Linked DNA regions of Homo sapiens: regions 1, 2 and 3 are each linked to region 4. Evidence: fine-mapped expression QTL. A gene starts in region 4. Each other region holds a variant in brackets. All regions are shown on one strand. Distances are between the middles of the regions. Region 1 overlaps ATP2B3 (ATPase plasma membrane Ca2+ transporting 3). Region 2 holds the start of BGN (biglycan). Region 3 holds the start of HAUS7 (HAUS augmin like complex subunit 7). Region 4 holds the start of TREX2 (three prime repair exonuclease 2).

The links. PIP is the estimated chance that this variant, and not a neighbour inherited with it, causes the effect.
Region 1: its variant is fine-mapped to the expression of TREX2 in sun-exposed skin (GTEx, PIP 0.96).
Region 2: its variant is fine-mapped to the expression of TREX2 in fibroblasts (GTEx, PIP above 0.99). The same link has a PIP of 0.9 or more in visceral fat.
Region 3: its variant is fine-mapped to the expression of TREX2 in whole blood (TOPMed, PIP above 0.99).

The regions. Positions count from the first base shown.
Region 1 is chrX:153,574,861-153,580,336 of GRCh38, forward strand. ATP2B3 (ATPase plasma membrane Ca2+ transporting 3) reads left to right here. Exons shown (of 22, transcript NM_001001344.3): 22 at 5,118-5,476. The coding sequence ends at 5,438. Among named protein-coding and RNA genes, the nearest start is that of CCNQ, 22 kb to the right of the region's middle. The variant G/A (reference allele first, on the strand shown) is at 2,809.
Region 2 is chrX:153,492,604-153,498,103 of GRCh38, forward strand. BGN (biglycan) reads left to right here and starts at 2,377. Exons shown (of 8, transcript NM_001711.6): 1 at 2,377-2,510. It also overlaps a transcript of HAUS7 not described here. The variant G/A (reference allele first, on the strand shown) is at 2,810.
Region 3 is chrX:153,467,773-153,473,241 of GRCh38, forward strand. It overlaps HAUS7 (HAUS augmin like complex subunit 7), which reads right to left and starts at 2,804. Exons shown (of 10, transcript NM_001385482.1): 1 at 2,678-2,804; 2 at 1,374-1,489. The coding sequence starts at 2,785. RefSeq lists enhancers at 2,096-2,275, 2,426-2,525, 3,039-3,333 and a silencer at 2,856-3,165. The variant C/T (reference allele first, on the strand shown) is at 2,729.
Region 4 is chrX:153,443,383-153,448,805 of GRCh38, forward strand. TREX2 (three prime repair exonuclease 2) reads right to left here and starts at 2,674. Exons shown (of 2, transcript NM_080701.4): 1 at 2,627-2,674; 2 at 1,091-2,113. The coding sequence starts at 2,048. The coding sequence ends at 1,338. HAUS7 (HAUS augmin like complex subunit 7) reads right to left here. Exons shown (of 10, transcript NM_001385482.1): 10 at 4,286-4,527. The coding sequence ends at 4,496.

The DNA.
Region 1 (5,476 bases), 130 kb after region 4:
CCGCTTTGGCTCAGTGTGGCCAGGGATGGGCCTTGTCAGTCTGCAGCGTCACCCGCCCTGTGTAAGGCTCAGAACTGCTCATCCACGCAAGTCGGGAGCCCGGGCCAAGCCCACAGCACTCAGCATGTCTCCTCTGGGCAGCTGGTAACAAACTGCCCGGGACAGCCTCTCTAAGGATGCGTACTTGAGCTAAGTTCAGAGGAAGGAGAAAGGCCAGCCAGGCAGCAGAAAGGGCAGGGGTCATGGCTCCGGGGAGCCCCTGCGTGGGGTGTTCAGAAACAGCTCCAGCCGGCTGGGCATTGCAAAGTGGGCAAAGAGCTATGGGGAGGGCCGAAGCCAGCACAGGAGGCTGGTGCAAAGCCGTGTGGGCCCCAGACATTCAGCCCCGTCCACTGAGCCCCTGCTGGGTGCAGCGAGCCAGACAGACAGACCCCTGCCCCAGGGGGATTACCTTCCAGTGAAAGGTGGATGGATGTAGGGGGCACTTGAAGGAAGGAGCAGAAGTGGGCACCATGCTGCTGGGGAAGACAAGAGTGAGGGGAGCCTTCCTGGTGTGGGGTGCAGCCACAGCAAAGGTCCCCAGGTGGGATGTGCCGGAGGCTGAGGGGTAAAAGAGGGCAGAGTGAGAAAGACTGGGGCCGGCTCCGAGGGCCACAGCCAGTGGAGGGCTTGTAGCGGGGGAGACCAAGACACGCTCTGGTTTTCGGGCCGCCGTGCTAAGGGCATGGAGGGGTGGGGGCGAAGTGCAGGTTCTGGATGGCGTTTGAAGGGAGCCACGGGGCTGGGGCCGGGGGGGTTGGGCCTGCTAAGTTTGAGACCCAGCTTAGATGCCCAAGTCTGGAGCCGGAGCCGAGAGGCTGTTAGCCGACAGGTGGAATGGAAGGCCGAGAGCCAGAAGAGAGTACCTAGACCCAGAGGAGGGGCCCTCGGGTGTCAGGGATGGGAGAGGAGGAGGGGCTGGAGCAGTGTCGGACAGCGCTGGGGGACTGTGAGGAGTAAAGGACTGTGGCCTCTCAGGGCCATCAGCCATGATGGGGAACGGAGAAGTGTGGCAGAGGGAGACAGCAGGAGGACACAAGGAGGTGGGGACACACAGTGGGGAGCCACCTCGCCTCACCCGGATGAGATGGGGAGTCCTCCAGCCCAACCTGACCCTCCTAGGGGCATCTCTCCCGGAAGAGTGCTTTCATTTCCTTTCTTTTTAAATTGTCACAGTAAAACGGGCTTTTGGGGGTACAGTTCAATGAATTTCCACACAGTCAGGACACGGGCCAGTTCCATCGCCTACTGGAAGGTTTAGAGCCAGATGGGGGACCAAGAGTCTGACTTGGCAGCCAGAGAGAGCTCGGAAACTCCACCTAGAGAAGGGACAGGAAGGATGGAGGGCTTTGCTGGTGGGGGTTGGGGTCCCAATGTGACCCCAGGGCCCCAGGCAGGACATAGCAGCAGCAATGGAGGTGAGGAGAGGCTCAGATGTGGAAGATGCTTTTGAGTTAGGGTAGGGCCCACAGGACACGTGGATGTCTGGTACATAGGGTCAGGGGGTCAAAGTGCCTCTGAGGTTTGGCCAGAGCCCTGCACTGGGATGGGAAGGCTGCTGGTGGGCAGAGTTCAGCTGGAGCACTGATAAGAGTCCTCCTCGGGCCTCCTGCAATTTGAGAGGTCCCTTAGGCATCCGAGGGGGAACACCCGGGAGGCAGCCAGGGCAGAAGTCTGGCAGTCCAGGAAAAGGTGGACATGGTGCAGCTGGTATCTGCAGTATTTACGGTGGCCTGATGGTCTATAGACAGCATTGACAGCCCTGGGGGCCATGAGATTCCTTTGGGAGCAGTAGGGGGCGTGGCGCGTCCTGGGCTGAGAGCAGAGCAGGAGGCGGTGCAGGAGCCTGAGATGAGGACAGAGTGAACCCAGGCTGGTGGAAGGAGGGCATCCTTGAGCACCCAGGTAGGAGTGCAGCCCTCTGGGATGGGCCTCTCTTAGAAACGTTTGTTGCTTTCCATTGAACCAATCTCCCAGGAATCGACTGCATCCTTCAGTGTTGGGTGGGCTGAAAACACCCCACCTTAACACCAACACCAAAACATTGTTTAATGGCCCAGGATTAGGATGCAGGGAAAATAGAGCCTGGAGAAAGCTGACTCACTGTCAGCTGTAACAGACTCACCAGGACTCCAGCCAAGCTTAGCACCCCCAAACAGCAGAATGTTGGGGGGCAGCCCTTCCATCCTGCAGCGGTTCACTCAGTCACTTGTGCATTCCCCAAGTGTCTGCTGAGCAGCTGCTCTGGGCCAGGCTCTGTTGTTAAGCCACAAACAAGGCAGATGCCATCCGGGAGGGGCACGCTGGAGTAGCCGGTGAGACCGGAGGAGCAGTAGCAGCAGAAGCCCAGCCTGGAAGGAAGGGCTGGCTCCGTGGCCTGGCTGTCCTTTATGGAGGTCTTTGGAGTTGAGCCAGGTGCAGTGAGACCTGTGCATAGGTTTGAGCAGGGGCCTGGCCTGATCACATGCCCCCAGGTCTGAATGAGGCCACCAGCTCAGCGAGATCTCACCCCACACAGCCCTGGGGTCAAGGCCTGCAGCACTTTGTCCTTTTTGTGACTTGATGGGCAACAGCTTTAGCAGGCGATGTCCCAGGCGGCTTCCACACCACAATCCTGTACCAGAAAAGGCCTAAATAATGAGGCAACATCTGCATTGGCTACGAAAACTGAATTCTGTTTCTTTTCATTAAAAACGTCAAATTATTCTCAATTTCTGTGTTACCCCTAATTCAGAAACCAGTCTGGGGATAAAGGCCTGAGTGAGAATA[G/A]CTGACCATCTGCCGTCTGGCAGATGTGGCTTTCCCGAATGCAGAGAAAATCCGAACCAGATTTCAGATGGGGTGCTAGAAAATTCCAATGTGGAGCTTTTTGGCTTACTTTTTTTTATTATTATTTTAAATAGGAACGGGGAGTATCACTCTGTTGCCCAGGTTGGTCTCGAACACCTGAGCTCAAGCGATCAGCCCGCCTCGGCCTCCCAAAGTGCTGGAATTACAGCCGTGGACCACCAAACCTGGCCCTGGCTCACTTTTTGCACTGGAGAGGTGATGAGGTTGGCATCATTTCAGCTGATTCCGAAGCACTGTGCTTTGCCTAGCTGAGCCCCTGGAGGGCTGAAAGAAAGTCACCGAAAAAAGGTGATTAATTGTCTAAACGACAGAGCCAGAGAGGAAATATTTTTAGCTTTCCAGGCCTGGTCTCTGCTGCCGTGACACAACTGTGCCCTTACAGCATGAAACTTAAACCAGTAAAATTTTATTAACCAAAACTAGCAGAGAGCTGGGGTTAGCCCCTCAGCAAGCCCTGACACCTTGTCTAAACCCAGAAAACCAAATCCTAGGTCGAACCTTGGCCCCAGAAATGCTTCAGAACTCCTAATGTGTCCACCTGCTCACATAGGCAGGGGTGGACAGGTGTTGGATGAACCCCAGGGTCTGCCTGGCAGCTCAGCGCTCCGTCTGCTGCCCCCTATAGGGATGGCAGTACAAGGTGGGCCAGCTACCATTGGCGGCTGTGCTGACACTGGCCTGTGCGAGGCCAGGCAGAGGCCTCCCCATCAACTCCTGGCTTCTAGAAGCAGGAGGGGGCCCAGGCTGAGGGGCCAGGGAGCAAAGAGAGGCAGCAAGGACTTGAGTGCGTGAGGCAAGGTGGAGAAGCCAGAGGAGGGAAGGGCTCGCTCCTGGAGCAGTGCCCTGCCGGAGGGTCAGGGGGCTTAAGGGCTGCCGTGCGCTCAGCTGGGGGCAGAGGGCCACTGTGCCGGGGGAGTCTGGGGCACAGCGGGAGCTCTTTCATGCGGGAAGTTCCGCTGATCTGAGGTCTGCAAACTCCTGTGGGGAGGGATGGCCAGGGAACAACACAGAGCGGAGCCCGGGAGGCAGCAGAGACGCAAGTTTTGGAATGTCTGACTGGAAGATGGAGGAGGAGACGGGAGAGAGGACAGGCGGAGTGAGGTCAGAAGAGCAGGGGCACCAGATTGAACCAGACCCAGTCAGACACGGGGGCTGTGAGGAGGCCACAGGGGCATCTGAGCAGAGACAGGCTTTAGTGGGTGCAAATCAAAAGTGTGGCCATTTTCGGTCTCAGATACCTCCAGCTGGGGACTGCTGGGCTCTCTGGCCTGGAGCTCTGAGTACAGGCCTGGGCCACAGTTTCTGGTTATAGCCAGATGGGCCCCAGCACTGTGGCCAGGGTGGAGAGGTATGGACAGAGAGGAGGAGGGACAGAGCCAGGCCAGAGCTCTGGGGCACCCAGGGACAGAAGAGAGGGCAGTGGAGGAGATGGGGCCAGGGCAGCTGGTGAGGTGGAAGAGGGCCAGGCAGGGGCAATGTCAGGAAGCCATGAGAAGCTTCCAGAAAGAGGGATGATCTTCTGTGTTGAGTGCCCTGAGGGATCAAATCAGACGAAGATGCAGAAGTGGCCAGTGGAGTTAGCCGCAGGGAGACCCTCGACATGGCAGGTCCCGGCTCCAGCCATGGGAGCTGGGGGATGGAGGGAGACCCATGCGAGAAAGGCCGGCAGTGCCCATAGGCTGGGAACTTGCTCATACCAGCAGGTACTTCGGACTTTCTGGTAAGATCGAGAAGACATCCCACTCACCAGCATTCTCTCCTTTTCAAATCATCTTTCTTTTCTACCAAATTGGAATTCAGATTGGGCAGAGACCCCAGAGGTCACCAAAGCCACTCGTCTCCCCAGGACAGGGAACTGCGGGGTCACAGCCAAGAGCCTAGTGCAGCACTCTCAAGTTCCAGAATACCTGCCCAGCTCAGCCTAGAGAAAGACACTGCCATCTTTTCCTGCATGCGGATCGGTTGACGAGACCAAGGCCCACACCTGAAAACTCTTTCCAAAGGCAGGCAGAGCCATCCCATTCCGTAGCAGCCCTCCAACAAATGGGTGGACATTTCTCATGCCATGACCCCCAGCCATTGACGTGGGTGGAATTTACCAGCACCAGCCGGCCACTGACTGTCTCCTTCCTTCCTTCCTACCTTCCTTCCACGTTTCCTTTCCTTTCCCTTCCTTTCCTCCCTCCCTGCTCCCACCTCGCGCCCTGTCCCTCCACCTCCCACTCCAGATCCGGGTGGTGAAAGCGTTCCGTAGCTCGCTCTATGAAGGCCTGGAGAAACCAGAATCCAAGACCTCCATTCACAACTTCATGGCCACGCCCGAGTTTCTGATCAATGACTACACCCACAACATCCCGCTCATTGACGACACGGACGTGGACGAGAACGAGGAGCGCCTCCGGGCCCCCCCGCCCCCGTCCCCCAACCAGAACAACAACGCCATAGACAGCGGCATCTACCTGACCACGCATGTCACCAAGTCAGCTACCTCTTCAGTGTTTTCCTCCAGTCCCGGGAGCCCGCTCCACAGCGTGGAGACGTCCCTCTAACAAGAACTTGTCTCAGCACATGCGCACACGCACACTCG
Region 2 (5,500 bases), 49 kb after region 4:
CCCAAGCAGGGTGTCGCCTCATCGCCACTTCCAAGCCCCCATCCAGGAACATGCCTGGCTGAGACCTGAGGGTGAGGTCGGTGCAGGGCCGGACTGCAGCGCCGCCTGGCTCCCCTGTGTCTCCCCACACCCCCCCGCACGTGTGCTCTTCCTTCCACCGGCAACTTCCCTCTTCCCTACTGGTCTGCTCCAGGTCACCTCCTCCAGGTAGCCCTCCCGAGCCTCTGGCACTGTGCATGGCCCTGCGCCCCCACGGTATTCAGAGCTGTTTCACCCCCACTGGGACTCCTGGAGGCTGAGGCCCTGAGTGACAGCTCCTGGGTTCTCAGTCCCCAAGCAGTGCAGGAAGGTACTGGGTACCAGCACCTCGGGCAGCAGGCATGCCTTGAGTGGGTTTCTCCTTTTTTCTGAAACGGCTTTACTGAGAGTGGCTGTGCTTACCACACGATTTGCGCATTGAGCACGTACAAGGCAAGGGCTTTTATATGGTCTATTCACAGAACTGTGCAACCATCACTCAGTCGATTGTAGAACATTTTCATCACCTCAAAAAGAAAACCCATACCTTTAGGTACCACCCCTCTAGCACCCACTGCCCACAAATCCGCTTTCTGTCCCCACAGATGAGCCTAGTGTGGACATTTCAAATGAATGGAACCAGAGGCTCTGCGGCCTTTTGCGACTGGCTGCTGTCACTGAGCGGAATGTTTCCAAATGCTTCTCTCTCCACCCAGACTGCTAGTCAGGCTTCGCTGCCTGTCCCGCTCTCTACCGACATATTTCTCCACGAATGAGTTGGCAGTGGGGGAGGGAAAGAGGGTGGGACAGAGATGAGACCAGGCTGCCAAGAGTCGGACGCTGAGGCTGGGCAAAAGGTAAAACACACAAACCTGCCGAAAGACAAGCCATCTCCTTTGTCTGGAAAGGGCATATGTGGTCTCCAATCTCCTCATTCCAACCATGAAATCAAGAGAGAACCAGGGTTACCAGCCTGGCCCCTGGTTTCCCACGTCTCTCTTCTCCCTGGCCCAGTCTAGAAGCTTCTTGCAGGCAGGTACCACAGTTTGGTCAAGGTGCCATGCGTCCCAGGTCCTAGCCAGGCCCTGGGCTGCCGCTGGTGAACAGGAAGGGGGTCTGTGCCCTGCCATGCCCCCAGGTAGAGCTCCCCTGGGAGCATCCTCCCTGGCCTGGGACCTCCCAGACCCCACCCCCCGGTTGAGTGATGGCACTGCCAGGGGTTGAAGACCCTCAGCCCTCGACGTTGTCCTCTCTCCATTGGATGCCGCCTCTCTCTAGCCACCCCTCTCTCCCTCTCTGCCCCTTCGAGCTTTTTCTCTCAATATGCAATTTTCTCTTTTGGTCTTCCGCACTCTTGGCCCCCAGTTCTATTGCAGATCTGTTTCTCACTCCATCTAAACTCTTACCCCTGTGTCTCAGGAGCTGCTCTTGCTGAGGGAAGAAGGGGACACTACGGGACAGGGGGGCAGTGTCGTACTAAGGACCTGGGCTCTAGCCACTGGAGGAACTGGACTCATTTGGGCCCTCAGGAAGCGGCTGAGTCTTGGTGGGGTAACCCGGTTAGCCCCCGTAAGTGACCAGCACAGGGCTGAGCCCAGAGGAAGTGGCCACCCACAGAGTGGTTCTCATGTCCGAGGGGACCTGCAGGGATTGAGCAAGAAGACTGACTCGCTGGATCCTTCGTCTCTGAATCAGTTCAGGGCAGGCAAGCTGGGGAGCCCCCTGCCCCGTCCTGCCACCACCAGCCGGATCGGGCCCTCTTTTTAAGGGAAGAAAGTCTGGAGTGGAAGGGAGGGCACAGGGCGCCAGGAGCCTACATGAAGTCCTTCCAGAAATCCACAACAGCTACCTCTCTGATCCTGGAGAAACCACCTCCTTGCTTAGGCCCAAGCAGGTTCCTGGCAGGCTCAGGACCAAATTCCAGGGGCCACTCATGGGCCTAGCAGCCCAAGGCCGCCTCCCCCTCGTCTTTCTTCCATCTCTCTTTCCTCTGCCTGGCGAGATGCCAGCCAGCACCTCAGTGTCCCCATCTGGGCAGTGGAAAGTTTGACTCTCTGGGTCCTTGTTTGAGTGAGTGCGAGTGTGTCCGTTCCTTTGCTGTCTGCCCCAGGCGGGGGAGGGGGGGGGAGGTGGTGGGGGCGAGGGGGCGGGGGCTCAGCTAGTCCAGCCGTCTACAAGAAAATTGCTCCCTTTGAAGCTGCCAGGGGGGCCGGGAAGCCTGCCCCCTCCTGCTCGCCCGCCCTCTCCGCCCCACCAGCCCCCTCCCTCCTTTCCTCCCTCCCCGCCCTCTCCCCGCTGTCCCCTCCCCGTCGGCCCGCCTGCCCAGCCTTTAGCCTCCCGCCCGCCGCCTCTGTCTCCCTCTCTCCACAAACTGCCCAGGAGTGAGTAGCTGCTTTCGGTCCGCCGGACACACCGGACAGATAGACGTGCGGACGGCCCACCACCCCAGCCCGCCAACTAGTCAGCCTGCGCCTGGCGCCTCCCCTCTCCAGGTAGGGCTGGCTTCAAGCTGCCTCCTCAGCAACCCAGAGATGCCCCTGGCTCTGCTGCCTCCGCTGTCCCAAGCCCTGGTCCTGCTGTCCCCAGTGCCGCGAGGGTGTCCACAGATTTCCCCGGTGCTCTCTGTAGGCTGCTGATCCACGCCCCTTCATCGCCACCCTGCGGCCCCCTTGGTCCCTGTCAGGCTTCTGCCTCGTCTCGCCGCCCTCCAGGCACCTTTCCCTCACCCCTTCCTCTCCCTCTCCCTTCTGACCTTGCTCTGCTTCATCCACCTCTTGTCTCTCTGCCTCCC[G/A]CTCGGGGTCCGTCTTCTTGGCTACCACCCTAGAGCGTGGCTGGGTGACTGGTACCCCAGCTTTGCCAATGGCCCTGTTTCATCATTGCAAGTCCCAGGCGCATGCTCCACTCCCTCAGCCTCGCTCTGCCCAGGCGCCTCCTTGCTCCAGGGCTTGGCGCCTGGCCCGGGTTGGGTCGGATCGGGGAGGACCGCCCAGCGCCCACCGAGCTCAGCACCCAGGAGCAGTCCTCCGCTGCACTGCCTGAGGCCAGTCCTTGGCATGGGCTGAAAGACTTAGTTTCCCAGGCACACCCCAGGCACCCTGCCCAGATGTTCCTCGCTCGCTCACCCCCAGGTTAATGCTCTGCCTCTACATCCTCTGTGAGAAGTCTGGGTCCTGGGAGCCCTGGCTGCAAGGGCCCTGACTGGGGGTGCCTGGGTGGCTCAGCCCTGTCTGTTTCCAGGACCCCCTTGGACTGGGACTCAGAATGGGTGTGGAGGGGAAGGAGAGAAAATCAGGCAACTGTGCCATGCTCCCCAGGGCGGACCTGGCTTGGGGTCCCAGAGGGGCCTGCCAAGGGACCCAGGAGAGGGAGCGAGAGAGTGCCCTGGAAGGCCCACGGAGGGGAGCGCCCCCTCACTGCTCCATGGGCGGGGCTGGGTGCCTGAGCGCCTGCTGAGCAGAGCAGGGGGCCCAGGGATCTGCAGGGCACAGGGTACATCAGTCTCCAGTGGTCTGTCTTGGTGGGCAGGCCTCTCTCCTGCTGTCCTGGCTGCCAGACTGCTCAGGTCCCATCCTCAGGGGGTCCTGTTTCTGGGCCCTCGCCCCTCCCTGGCCTGCCAGCTCTCTGCCCTATAGCAACTAATTGGAACTGAGACAAGCTGGAGATGCTCAGCCCCCCTGCCCCCGTGCCAGAAAGGCTCCCGGGGACCAGCGCCCAGGGGTGCGGGTGAGCACCTCCTGGTGACACCCAGCCGCCGGTGCCAGCCGCACCCCAGGAGAGCTGGTGTATGAGCATGGATGTCTTGGTGCGGAGCATGCCCATGTATGGCCACTGTGGGCCAGCATGGTGAGCCTTTGAGGGCAAGCCCGTGTGGGTATATTGAAAGGAAGATGCAGGGCTGCCTCCAAGCCACCAGGGCTGGGCGGTGGGAGCAGGTTGCGAGCCAGGGAGCAGAGAGGGCTCCCATGGCAAGCTGGCCAGCTGTGGGTGGCAGCCCTGGCCTCCCTGGCCCACCTTCAAGCCCCAAGGACCCGTACGGCAGTGGGCATTAACCCTACCAACGCATAGATGGGGAGTCTGGGAAAGGAAGGGGGGTGTTTCCAAGGCAAGAATGAGTTTCCTGTCTTTAGCAACATTCCAGAGTCACTCAAACAAAGCTATAGCGTGTCCCTTCCAGTGACAGCGCCAAGTCCCCAGAGGAGGGGTTTGTAATGAGTTCACACTTGACAGTTAGCACTCAGAGCCTTCAGCAAGGGCTTCTGAGTCCTTGCCACCCCGTATAGAGGTGGGATGAGGACCTCCCCACCTGCCGTCTCCTGTGCTTCCCGGGCCCACCCCCCACCCCCCACCCCCCAGCATCTCCAGCCTGCCCGGGAGTCACATGTCCTCGGCCCACAGAATCCCCAGCACACGCCCCACCCACAGGCCTAGCCCCAGCCCTGGGGTCCCTGGCACCCCACCTGCCAGGGCCCCTCCCCTGCCTTGCTCACCCCCCAACACCCCTGCTTGTCGGAAATGTCTTCCCATGCCCACCACGACCCCCTCCCACTCATCTGTGGGCCGGAGAGCTTGGTCCCTGCCGCACGTTGCCCCCCTAGCATCCAGGCCCACCACCGAGCCCCCGACAGGCCTGGGAGCCCCACTGGTGGGTGGGGACCCACCAGCTGGGGGTCTTGCTCACACCGAGGGGCTGGGGGTGGCGGTGGCTTTCCCAGGGCACCCTGCCTTGGGCTGCAGGCCGCTGGGTGGGCACCGGCTCCCTCGGAAGGCAGCGCAACCCGGGATCCTGCCGGCCCTGGCCCCCACCCTGCCGACCGGGCCTGGGGCGATCAGTGCCCCAGCTCCTGTCCTCTTCTGCTCAGATGCTGGGTTGGGAGATCAGGGGCCACAGCTCGGCCACTCAGAGCCCTTTCCGCAAGTCTTAGAGGGACCAGCTGTGGGGTGTGTGCAGAGGGGCTGCGCTGTGGGGAGGGCGCATGGCTCAGTCCTCCTGGCCTGAGGCCCGCCTAGCCTAAGTGGCCTCCAGGACCCATGGCCAGGCCCTTCTGCAGCCTTCCAGAAAGAACCAGCTTCCCAGGGTTCCCTGGGGAAGGCCTGGGGCCACCTCCTCTGGAGGGGTGGGGCCTGTGCTTCATTCCTCCTTCCCCAGGTCCCCTTCCAGGCCAGAAGATCCCCTCCACCACTTGAATCCCACAGCCAGAAGCCCCTTCTGGGACTCTAGACTCCTGGGAACCATCCCAGCTGCCCCCTTCGCTGTTTCGCTGTTTGCCTTCTTCCCCTGCCCCGTCATGGCTCTAGGTCAGAGCAGCCTCTGGGGTGGCTATGGAGGGGCCACCAGCCTTGGCTCTTCCGAGGACTGCAGAACCCTCCCACTCCCAGCTTCCCACCTGCGCAGCTCTGATCCCAGCCAGCCCAAGGGGCAGGGTCAGGTCCCGGCTCCCTGGCAGGCCTGGTGAAGGTGCTGCCCATTCCCATGAGGCTCATC
Region 3 (5,469 bases), 24 kb after region 4:
CATACTAAAGAGCCGGAAATGACAGCAGGCCAAGAGTGCACCCACAGGTTGAGGGCTCCAGCAGGGGCAGGGTGTGCTCAAAGGCTGTGGGCATCCAGAGGGAAGCGGAATACATTCTGCCCTGGGAACAGGAAACATTTTAAAAGGAGACAGGACGTGTGAGTTGGGTCTTTGCGGGCTGTACAGGAGGACGTACGACATGCAGAGACTAGAAGGCCATTTCCAGGAGGGGGAACAATGTGAGCAAGAGCAAAAGGTTATGAAGCGAGGAGCTGCTGTGCTGAGCCCTGGGGAGAGGCCTGAGGAAGGGCCTAGAAGGCAGAGGCAGGAGACGCCTCTGGAACAGCAAGGGCTCAAACACAAAAACGCCTCCTCCTTCCTCTGGGGGCCTGTATCCAGCTGGGCGTCCTGCTGATGTCTCTGGTCCTGGCGGGCCAGACCGGCTGGATGCAGGTTGGCTCCCCACTGCTCTACTGCCAGGCTCCCGCCCAGGCCCCTTCCTCAAGCAGCAAGGGTAGGCAGGCCGCAGGCTGAGGAGGGGGAGGCCCGGGCCTGGACTCACGAGAGGCTCCTGTACCAACAGACTACAGCTGTTCCTGAGCATGGCCTGGGCACACACCCAATCCCACAGGAGCCTGTGCTCTGTGGGAGGCGGGGAAAGCCTTCTCCACTCACAGCTGTGAGGCAGTGAGACAGACCCTCAGCTCAGGGACTACGTCACCAGGGGAAGGATGTCTGCCCTGGGAATGGGACACTCTGGATCATTTCCTCCACCATCACTCAGGAAGTCACCCTGTCACCATGGGCTTCATAGGGTGCCAGGCACACACCATGCTACACCCTGGCCCAAAGGCACCAGAGGACTGGGAAACGGGTCACGGCACAGAAGCTGACAAGAGGTGACACTGCATGAGGACCACTTGGCCAGCTGAGACCCAGCCAGGAGCCCACGCCCTGGCCCTGCCTGTCACTCCTCCACTGGGAGACCAGAGACTGTTCATGCCTCCAGCCTGACCCTTGGCTTCCGGGTCTGAGAAGGAAAGGACTGGAATGGAGCATTTCTCAGGTGCCTGCCAGTCCTGAACCTCCAAACTCATAAGGCAAGGCAAACGCTGAGGGCAAGTTCAGCACTGCAGCAAAGGGGTGGCTGGACTAGCCCAGCACCGCCAGGGGCCACTTTGCCCCAAGTTTGATCATGCCTGTCACCAGTACTCCTTACCTACACAGCTGTTCTCACGAGGGTCCAGGCTAGGGGGTGGAGCCCTCTGGGAAGACAGCTACTCACAGTAACCACAAACCCCATCTTCCCCAGGTGGGGCTGGCTGGCGCCCATGCACACCCCAGGTGGGAAGAGGAAGAAACTGATGCATTACCGGGTACACATCCACTCTAGGATCTCCAAGCGGTACTCTGAGGGGCTGCACAGCAGTTCCTGAATTGTCTTTGGCTCTGTGATATACAGACCCTCGAGGAAGGGGCAGTTTAGGTCCTAAGCAAGGAAAAGGAAAGCAACATTCACTGAAAGTCCCAGTGTACATCATTTCATTTTATTTATTTATTTATTTTTGAGACGGAGTCTCACTCTGTCGCCCAGCCTGGATGGAGTGCAGTGGCATGATCTCGGCTCACTGCAGCCTCCACCTCCTGGGTTCCAGCAATTCTCCTGCCTCAGCTCCCAGGGTAGCTGGGGGATTACAGGCATGCGCCACCACGCCCGGACAATTTTTGTATTTTTAATAGAGACGGAGTTTCACCATGTTGGCCAGGCTGGTGTCAAACTCCTGACCTCAGGTATCTGCCCACCTCAGCCTCCCAAAGTGGTGGGATTACAGGCGTGGGCCGCCGCGCCCAGTCCTCAGTGTACATCTGCAAGCTCCCAGGACCCTTTCCTTTACCCGCGTCCTGCCATCTTGCCAAGAGTTCAAGTCCCCCCATTCTTAACCCCACATCTCCCGCGGCATGCAGACCCCACCTCTTTCAAGTACTCCCACTCTGGGCTCTTGTGGCAGCAGGACCTAGGAGCAACGCCTGAGACTAAGACTTAAGAGAGAGTCCTAGGTTTCGGGACTGAGGGAAAGGGGAGAGGGAAAGGGAGAGGGACCACTGAGCCAGTCGCGGACAGGATGGGGGAGTGTCTGGGGGGAGGAGCGAGCGGGCCGAGGGGACCTGGGACAGCTCCCTAACCTCGTGGGCCAGCTTTCCTCACTGCTGCAGTGAGGGCTCTGTCCTGTGGGGCTGTAGAGGGCTTCTGGAGGCTATCACCCCTGGCATCTGACACCAACTGACACCAAGCCCTAGTCTCGCTGACTTGACAGAGTGGCACGAGGCTCTGCCCATCTGTCCCCCCAGACCCCGCAAGATCCCTAAGGCCAGGCCTGGGTCCTCTGTGTCTGCACTTGCTCCGAGCGCCCAGCGCGGGTACTGCAGTTCCACAGGCGGTGCTGGCCCCAACTACCAGGCACGGGCCGTGGAGACAGCAAGAACGAAGGCCTGGGGCACACCAAAGGGCAAAGATGAATGATCCACAAGCACCCCCTGCTGCAAGGGAACAGGGCGCAGCCGGAACCGGCGACGGTGGCCGCGTGGCGCCGCGGACTTCCGCAGCAAGCCCTCCCGGGCCTCGGGCGGGGCCCTCCCCGGTCCCCCGCCCTGGAGTGGCTTTCTGGGCCAACAGCACCTTCAGCTTCCCGAACACCTCCACAGCCGCCCTGGACACGCTGCTGTCGCC[C/T]TCGTCCTCTGAGTAGTCGTCGCCGCCACGGCCGCAGCCAGCGTCCTGCCCCGCCATGTTTCGCGCTCCGAGCCGCGCCCCGCCCATGCCCTGGCTTCACTGGCCGGCAAGACCGCCAATCAACCTCCAGCGTTCTTCCCGCCCACCCGCCTGCGCCCACCCCCTTCCCGACCGACCCTTCCCATTGGGCGACATCTCCGCCTGCGCGGGCCCCGGGCTCCCACCCCCCGCCCCGGCACCACCCAGAGGCAGGACCACAGTGAAGCGGGCAGGGCGGACACAGGGAAGGGGGCGGGGCGGACACAGGGAAGGGGGCGGGGCGGACACCGGGAAGGAGGCGGGGCGGACACCGGGAAAGGGGCGGGGCGGACACCGGGAAGGGGCGGGGCGAACGGGCCAAGCTGGCTCTGAGTCGCAGGCCTTGCTGGCGTCGCCCCTGCTGCCGGCCGGGAATGATGATGCGTTGAAGCGAGGCTCTTCCAGGAGGGGGCGCTCCTGCCTTGGTCGGGTTCTCCTGGGCCACCACCACTAAGGGGCACCCTGGTTCCCAGGAGGACCAAGGGGAGCCTTGGGTGCAGAATGGAACTCGGACTGAAGCGTTCCTCTCCCAGCGCGGGGCTCCGTCTTCTCTTCACCATGCTCACGCTGTAGTTAGAAGGAAATTTCTTGTCACTCACCAGCTGTGTGCCTTTGAACCAGTTACCTAACCTCTCTGTGCCTCTTTGCCCTCACCTAATGGAGCTAATGAGAGCACCTTACCCACTGGGTTGCTAATGAGGATGGCAGGCGGTAATAATTCCTGTGGAATCCCTAGAACAGTGCCCGGCGCATGCGAAGAACCACGTAAATGCTCACTATTGTAATACATGCTGGGCCCTGCTCCCCTCACGGCTCCTGGGGCTACCTGTGGCTCCTTCCTATCCTGTCTACTTAACAAATTTTTCTACATCCCTCAGGACCCTCAAACTCAATGCGTCTGCAATGAAATATGTCAGTCGCTCCTCCCCCAGACCTGCAAAGCCCCCAGTTCACTGAATGCCCCTTACCCAGGGACCTGCTGATTGGGCAAGGCAGGAAGGAGTTGGAGGGTGGCTTGTGCCCAGTAGCCAGGAGACAGCAGCAGGCAGCTGCCACTGTGCCCTCCTCTGTGCCCTACCCTGCCATCTCCTGGAGGGTGGGATCAGGGGGCAAGTCTATAGTCAGGGAGACCCAGGGACCTGCTGGGAGGCAACTGCAGTCATCCAAGTGACAGGAGGGGACTTCACTCCGTCCTGGGAGGAGGGAGCGGGCAGGAGTCCGGGGGTCACAGGAAGGGACCTCAGCCTGGGAGGCCCCGACACAGGCCCAGCGAAGTGCCTCAAGGTTGCTCTCTACCCTTCCACGTGGCTGCTGCCTCAGGCCCTTCTGGTAGCTGAGGGCTGTCAAAGGCTTTGGGATTTTTTTTTAAGCGTTTTTTTCCCTCTTTTTTGTTTTTGTTTTTCTTTCTTTCTTTTTAGAAAATTTCATCTCAATCACAGCCCCAGCTCAGACATTCAAATTCTTGTGGGTTTTTCTGTGGATCTTTCCTAGGACTGGGGAATTTGGCGGAAGAAACCACGGCAGTGTGGCAGCCTCCCCCAACCCTCCCCATATTCTCTGCTCCTGAGGACCGGGAAGAAACCAGCTCCTGTGTACTCTGGAAGAAAATCTCCCTCCTCCACCCAGCTCCACGGAGCCAGTGTGCTCAACAGGCCTCCCCAACCTCAGCAGTTCAGTCTATGGGACCCTGAGGAACTGGCAGGGCCTTGAGAGGCGAAGATCATCTTGAGAGGTTATGGAGGCCATCCCCCTCATGGAGAACCTGTTGGCCAGCCCTCAGCCCCTGGAGATGGTCGCTGAAGACCCAGCAGCAGGCTGCAGCTTCCCTGCCCACGCCACCCCACCACCCACCACCCACCACCCACCACCTGCCACCCACCACCCGCCCCCAGAATCATAGCACCTCCCAGGCATCTTCCTCCGGAAAAGCTGGAGGCTGGGGAGGGAACAGAGAGGCTGCTGGGCCTCTCAGGAAGGGGGAAAGAAGGGGCCCAGAGGTAGAAGCTTCTGGAAATGTGGACTCAAGCTCAGTCCAAGAAAGCACTCCTCCCAGAAATCACTGTCTGAACACCAGCTGGCTGCCAGGAGAGGAAGGGAGCTCCCGGTCCTAGAAGGTCTACAAGCCCAGGGAGGTGGGTGGGCGGGGATGTGGAGGGTTGAGTCCTACCATGGGGGAGGGAGGGGGCACATCTCTAAGGGACATTCCAACCCAGAGACCCCAGGTTCTCTGAGGGAGGCCTGGGTGGGTCAGGAGCCAAAAATGTGGCTGAAGGACCCATTGACCTGGAGGAGGGATGTTGGGGGGAAGCTGTGGATGTGGCGGGGAAGCTGGGGGGTCCTGGTCATGGAGGAAAGTTGGCCATGCGTCCCAGCAGGGCCTCAGCCGTGTCAGTGCTTGGAAAACACGTTGGAAAATGAGACTGGTTCACGGCACTGGCCCCGCTGTGCCAGAGATGGGCTGGCGGGTGCTGGTGGCATTCGAGACCTCTCAGTTTGTGTGGTGGGCCCAGAGATATATGGCCAAACAGTTGAGCTCACCAAGTGGGCAGCCTCCCTGACCTGTGGAGGGTATTGAAAAAGTCCTCAGAGCATCCGGGCCCTGCTCTTCATATGACCTTAAGGGCAGACCCCACGGTGCAGCGGGAATCAACCAGGGACCCCCC
Region 4 (5,423 bases):
TAACAGATGCCAGCACTGCTGAGCCAAAATAAACCCGCTGTCTTTGTAAATGACCCAGCCTCAAGTATTTCTTCACAGCAACTCGAGAACAGCTCGGCACGCAGCCCAAGCAGCATATGGCAGAAGCCTACACCAGACTTTTCCCCTCTCCTGCTCATGACCCTCCGCGGCTCCCCGCTGCCATCAGGGTCAGGCCTGGCCCGGGCCACAAGGAAGGTCTGAGGTGGTCACTGCCTGTGCTCTGGCCTCACCATCCTACCACCGTGCACGCTGCAGTGGCTCCAGTCATTCTGACCTACTTAGGGCTTCCCAGATTGTCCAGCTGGCTGGAGGCTCAGGCTTTGCTCATGTGAGTCACTCTCAGGCGTGGCCACCCCATCCCTTCTTACCTGACCCAGCGTTGGTGACAGGTCTCTCCCCACCCATGAGGCCTCCCAAGACTGGAAGTGCCTCAGGGTGGGGCCCCTGAGGCAGGTTAGCAGGGAACCCAAAGCACAGTGCGGTGGCCAGAAGCTGCCCTCCCACCGAGCGGCCTCCTGGCCCTACGGGGACACGGGCTGCAGGATAGGCTCCCTTCCAGGGTCACCCTCACAGCACCAGCCACCCCACCTCTGCTCCGTGCACCGTCAGGGCCCTTAGCATGTACATGTACATGTGCATGCCCACATGTGGGGGCACCTCCCTTTTCCCCAGCACCCCGTTTCTTAACATTTCACCCTGTTACCACTTCACAGAGCAGGGACAGAGACTCCAGGTCCCACGGCGGGCAAGCGCTGCAGCTGAGCTTTGTGCCCAGGCAGGCGGCCGGCTCTGTGGGCTTAAGGCCCTACTCATGGCTTCTTTGGGCCTCTGGGGTGACAATGCAGATGGGCGGCAATCAGCCCACAGCCACAACCCATCAGCCCTCAGACCAACCCAAGAGCTTGACGTCTCCCTACCCAGCCACCCACGGTCCTCACCGCGAGGAGAGGCCATAGGGGGGCGGCCCTGGAGGTCTTGTGCTGGCCCCTGGCATGGCTCACCGCCTGGCCCTGCTCAGCAGGGGGTCGAGGGAGTCCAGCCCCTAGTATCTGGCCAGCTAGTCGGAGGGTGAGTAGTTGGCAATGTTTATTGGGAAACAGCAAACTCTGCTGGGCACCCAGGCCAGCCGGGAGAGCACGGCCCTGGAAGCGGGGCCTGGAGAGGAATCCAGGGCCGTATGGCTGGTCAGGCAGCCAGGGAAGGCCTGGCAGGTGCACGGACCTGAGGCTGCCCAGATAGGAGGAGCCGGGGGTGGTAGAGGCCAGCTGAACGGTGGAGGCTGGCACTGTCCATGGCACAGGAGGTGGCCCTGGTGCTCAGGCCTCCAGGCTGGGGTCATCAGGCGGCAAGTACATGGGCTCGATGTGGGCCCACCCACGGGCCTGCTCATCGGCCCAGGCGAGCAGCTCTGCGGCGCGGTGCAGGAAGATCAGGAGCAGGGTGTGCACGTCGCCCTCGGCTGAGTGGGCTGCGCTTGGCTCTGCCCGGAAGTAGCGGTGGAAGAGGCTGCCGAGGCTGTAACCCTGGCGGCCCCGGGCCCGGGTGCCGTGGCTGTGGGCGCGGTCCAGGCCCCGCAGGGCCGGCAGCGTGTCCAGGCAGACAGTGTCCCGGGGCAGGCGGGCACCCAGGCGCCGCAGCTCGGCACACAGCAGGGGGAAATCATAATCAAAGCCATTGTGGGCCACAAGGCAGATGGGCCCTGCCTGGCGGCTCAGGAAGGCCTGCAGCGTCCGCACCACGGCGCCATCAAAGCCAGCCTTCCGGCATCGCGCCAGGCCCTCACTGCTCAGGCCGGTGATCTCGCTGGCCTTGGCAGTGAAGGGGCGCTCCGGGCACATGCACAGCGTGAGCTTGTCCAGGACCCGGGGCAATACTAGGGCACCAGACTCGTCGTGCTCCGGGTTCTCCAGGGAGGAGCGGTGGACAGCAAAGAGGGACAGCTCGGCAATCTCGGGCTCCACACTGGGGAGCCCAGTGGCTTCCAGGTCCAGGAAGACAAAGGTCTCGGCCCGGGGTGCCTCGGACATGGTGATGTTCCCACGGGGATAGCAAGTCCTCAAACTGTCCGAGCGAGAGGCACAAACCCTGAGGACTGGAGAGAGGGGTTCGCCCGGGCCCTGCTGTGTACCATCCTCCCCCTAGCCAAAGCTCTGACCCTTCTGGGGCTCACTTCCTGCCACCCCCGACCACAGCACCTGTGACCTTTGGCTCTGGGAGCGTCAGCCCCACTCCTGTCACCTACTGAACAGAAAAGGCAGGCCTCAGAGCGCTCTACTGCCTGCCTCCAGCCACAGTCCCCAGCAGGGATTGGGAGAGGCAGAGGCAGCTCAGGGACCGCACCTTGGCGGGGTCCAGCCCCTTCACCGGAATGCCTTGGCTGGGAACCTGGGGCATAGCACACTGGGTCTCCAGCCCTGGAACCAGCTGCCGGGAAGCAGGCAAGCAGCCACCCGAAAGAGCCCATGCAGTGCACCCAGCTCCCGCTGGGCTCGACCTCCCCACCCTTGTCCCTGGCACACAGGTGCTGGTCCCGAGCTGGCCTCTGCCTGCTTGCCCCCAGGCTCCCGGGGAGACTGTCCTTGCCAACCCCACCACACCAGCTTACCTGGGGCGGGCACTGACCGGCTTCCTGGGCTTCTGGGCACCTGTCGCCACACAGGCTGCTCTAGGCGGCCTTTAATCAGCGGCCGCAGCCCGCCCCCAGCTGCCTGTTGGCCAACAATGAGGCCTGGGGCCTCAGGACCTGCGCAGCCGGCTCGCTCGCCACCCCCTCGCTAGCTCACAGCCACTGAGACACACGCCCCGTGTTTACAAATTAGGAAGCAGGCCCCGAGCTCTTCACAGGCACGGGGAGGAAGCCAGAGTGGTGCGGAAGGCAGTAACCTCCACCTAGCCAGGCTGTGGCTGCCAGGCCTGGCAGGCCTGGGGTCAATGCCTCCCCCATGCTGGGGCCAATGCCTCCCCCATGCTGGGGCCAGTTACACAAAGGCAACAGGTCCTCTTTGCCAGGCCTCAGTCTCCCCGTCACTGGAGATCAGGTGCCGCTCGTGGGGATGAAGCGAGCTCTGGAGTGTGACCAAGGTGCCCACACATGCCGTGCTCAGCCTCCAAAGGGGAAGGGGTGCTCCCCCAAAACCTAGGGATGGGGCAGCCTCGGGAGATGCTATCTGCTTTAAGGACGTCGCTTCATCATGTCTACCGTGCACCTAACAGTGGCTGCTGGGGAAGGAAGGGAGGTGGGCCTGGCCCGGGAGCTGTGCAGGCCGCAGCTGAGCTAATGCTTCCTCCACCACAGATAAGCAACGTTAGGGGGTGGGCCAGGAGCGCCGGGACTACAGGAGGAGTGAAGCCCAGCCCCTCGGACCCCAGGCTCAGGGACCTGCCCTGTCTATCCCGCTCCAGGCAAAGGGCACCAGGTCCTTCCCGGTCCTGCGAGCAGTGGCGCCCTGAAGACCTCATTCTGGAGCAAGAGACAACAGCCCTTGATGGTGGGTGCACTGCAGGGCCAGCCCCATGCTGGGGGCACAGAGAGGTGACCAAGAGGAGTCCCTTGGCCTATAAATCAGGTGGTGCACCTGCACCATGGTGACCACAGGCCTGCCCGGCCTCCCACCTCTCACAGTGGTGGCTGGGGGATGCCTCAGGCGACTGGGATGGAGGGGGGTCTGGCACCTGGCTCCTCCTGGCCTCCTTGCCTTGTGTGCCCACAGGGACCTTGGGGAAGCAAAGGAGATGGTGCCAGGAGGGAGCAGGGTGGGGCGGGCAGCAGCAGGTACAATGGCCCCAAGGAGGCAGAGGCCCTACCAGTCACGCCTGTTCCGGTACTCACAGGGAGGGAGGCAGCTGTGACAGGCACACTGCTCAGGGAGATACTGGGTCACCCTGGGAAGCCCAGACAGCATCTTCCTGGACAACCAGTCAGGCTGAATTCCCCAGCCCAGAGCTGAGCGCCCAGCCAGGGAGGAGCAGGAAACTGGTACCCCGCGGGGGATCCAGGGGCACTCAAGGAGGGCGGCTGAGGGGTGCGTCTCGCACAGGACCCTAAGGCCAGCCGGGGGAGGCGACAGTGGGTTCTCTGCTTTCAAGTGGCTGGCAGCAGCAGGGAGGAGTGGAGCCACAGGAAGAGGACGCAGCCCAGGCCCGCCAAGATGACAGGAGGGCCGCCGCCAGCCTGCCCAGACCTGGGCCACCTGAGCAGCTCAGGACAAGGGGAAGGAGAGAGACATAGAGCTGAGGAAGCAGAAAGCAGGCTGGAGGCAACTGCTTAGAAACCAAGGCTTTCTTTGTGTCCAAGTCAAACCGCCCGTCTGTCTCTCCCTCCCCAAAGGGGCCAAAGGTCCCTGCCTAGAGCACAACGTGGGGCTGCAACGGCTTCTGCTGCCACAATCATCCATCCTCGGCCAACTCGATCTTGGGAGAGGGCTTCCTGCCCGCCCCATCCTGTGCTTTGGCGTAGGCCATCACTGAAGACTTTCTATTTCTCCATTAGTTCATTCATCTTGGTAGCTGCAGAGGAAAGAAAAGAAACCAAAAGGATGGTGGGAGTGTAAACTAGTTCCACCATTGTGGAAGTCAGTGTGGCGATTCCTCAGGGATCTAGAACTAGAAATACCATTTGACCCAGCCATCCCATTACTGGGTATATACCCAAAGGACTATAAATCATGCTGCTATACAGACACATGCACACGTATGTTTATTGCAGCACTATTCACAATAGCAAAGACTTGGAACCAACCCAAATGTCCAACACTGATAGACTGGATTAAGAAAATATGGCACATATACACCATGGAATACTACGCGGCCCATAAAAAAAGATGAGTTCATGTCCTTTGTAGGGACATGGATGAAGCTGGAAACCATCATTCTCAGCAAACTATCGCAAGGACAAAAAACCAAACACCGCATGTTCTCACTCATAGGTGGGAACTGAACAATGAGAACACTTGGACACAGGAAGGGGAACATCACACACTGGGGCCTGTTGTGGGGTGGGGGGAGGGAGGAGGGATAGCATTAGGAGATATACCTAATGTAAATGACGAGTTAATGGGTGCAGCACACCAACGTGGCACATGTATACATATGTAACTAACCTGCACGTTGTGCACATGTACCCTAGAACTTAAAGTATAATAAAAATATATATATATAAAATAAATAAATAAAATAAACAAATAAATAAATAGAAAAGAAACCAACAGGAAAGCGAGCCTGGCGCAAGAGGCGAGGTGCCTCCTGCCCACCACTCAAGGCACATGTCCTCAGCTGATCCTCCTTGAGCCCCAGGCACCACCAGGATGGCAGGGAAGGGACAGGCACTGCCGAGCTGGGAGCTGCTCAGGCTCTGTGGGGACCAGGCCAGCAGCTTGGGAGCCCTGGGCTGGGTCACACCGACC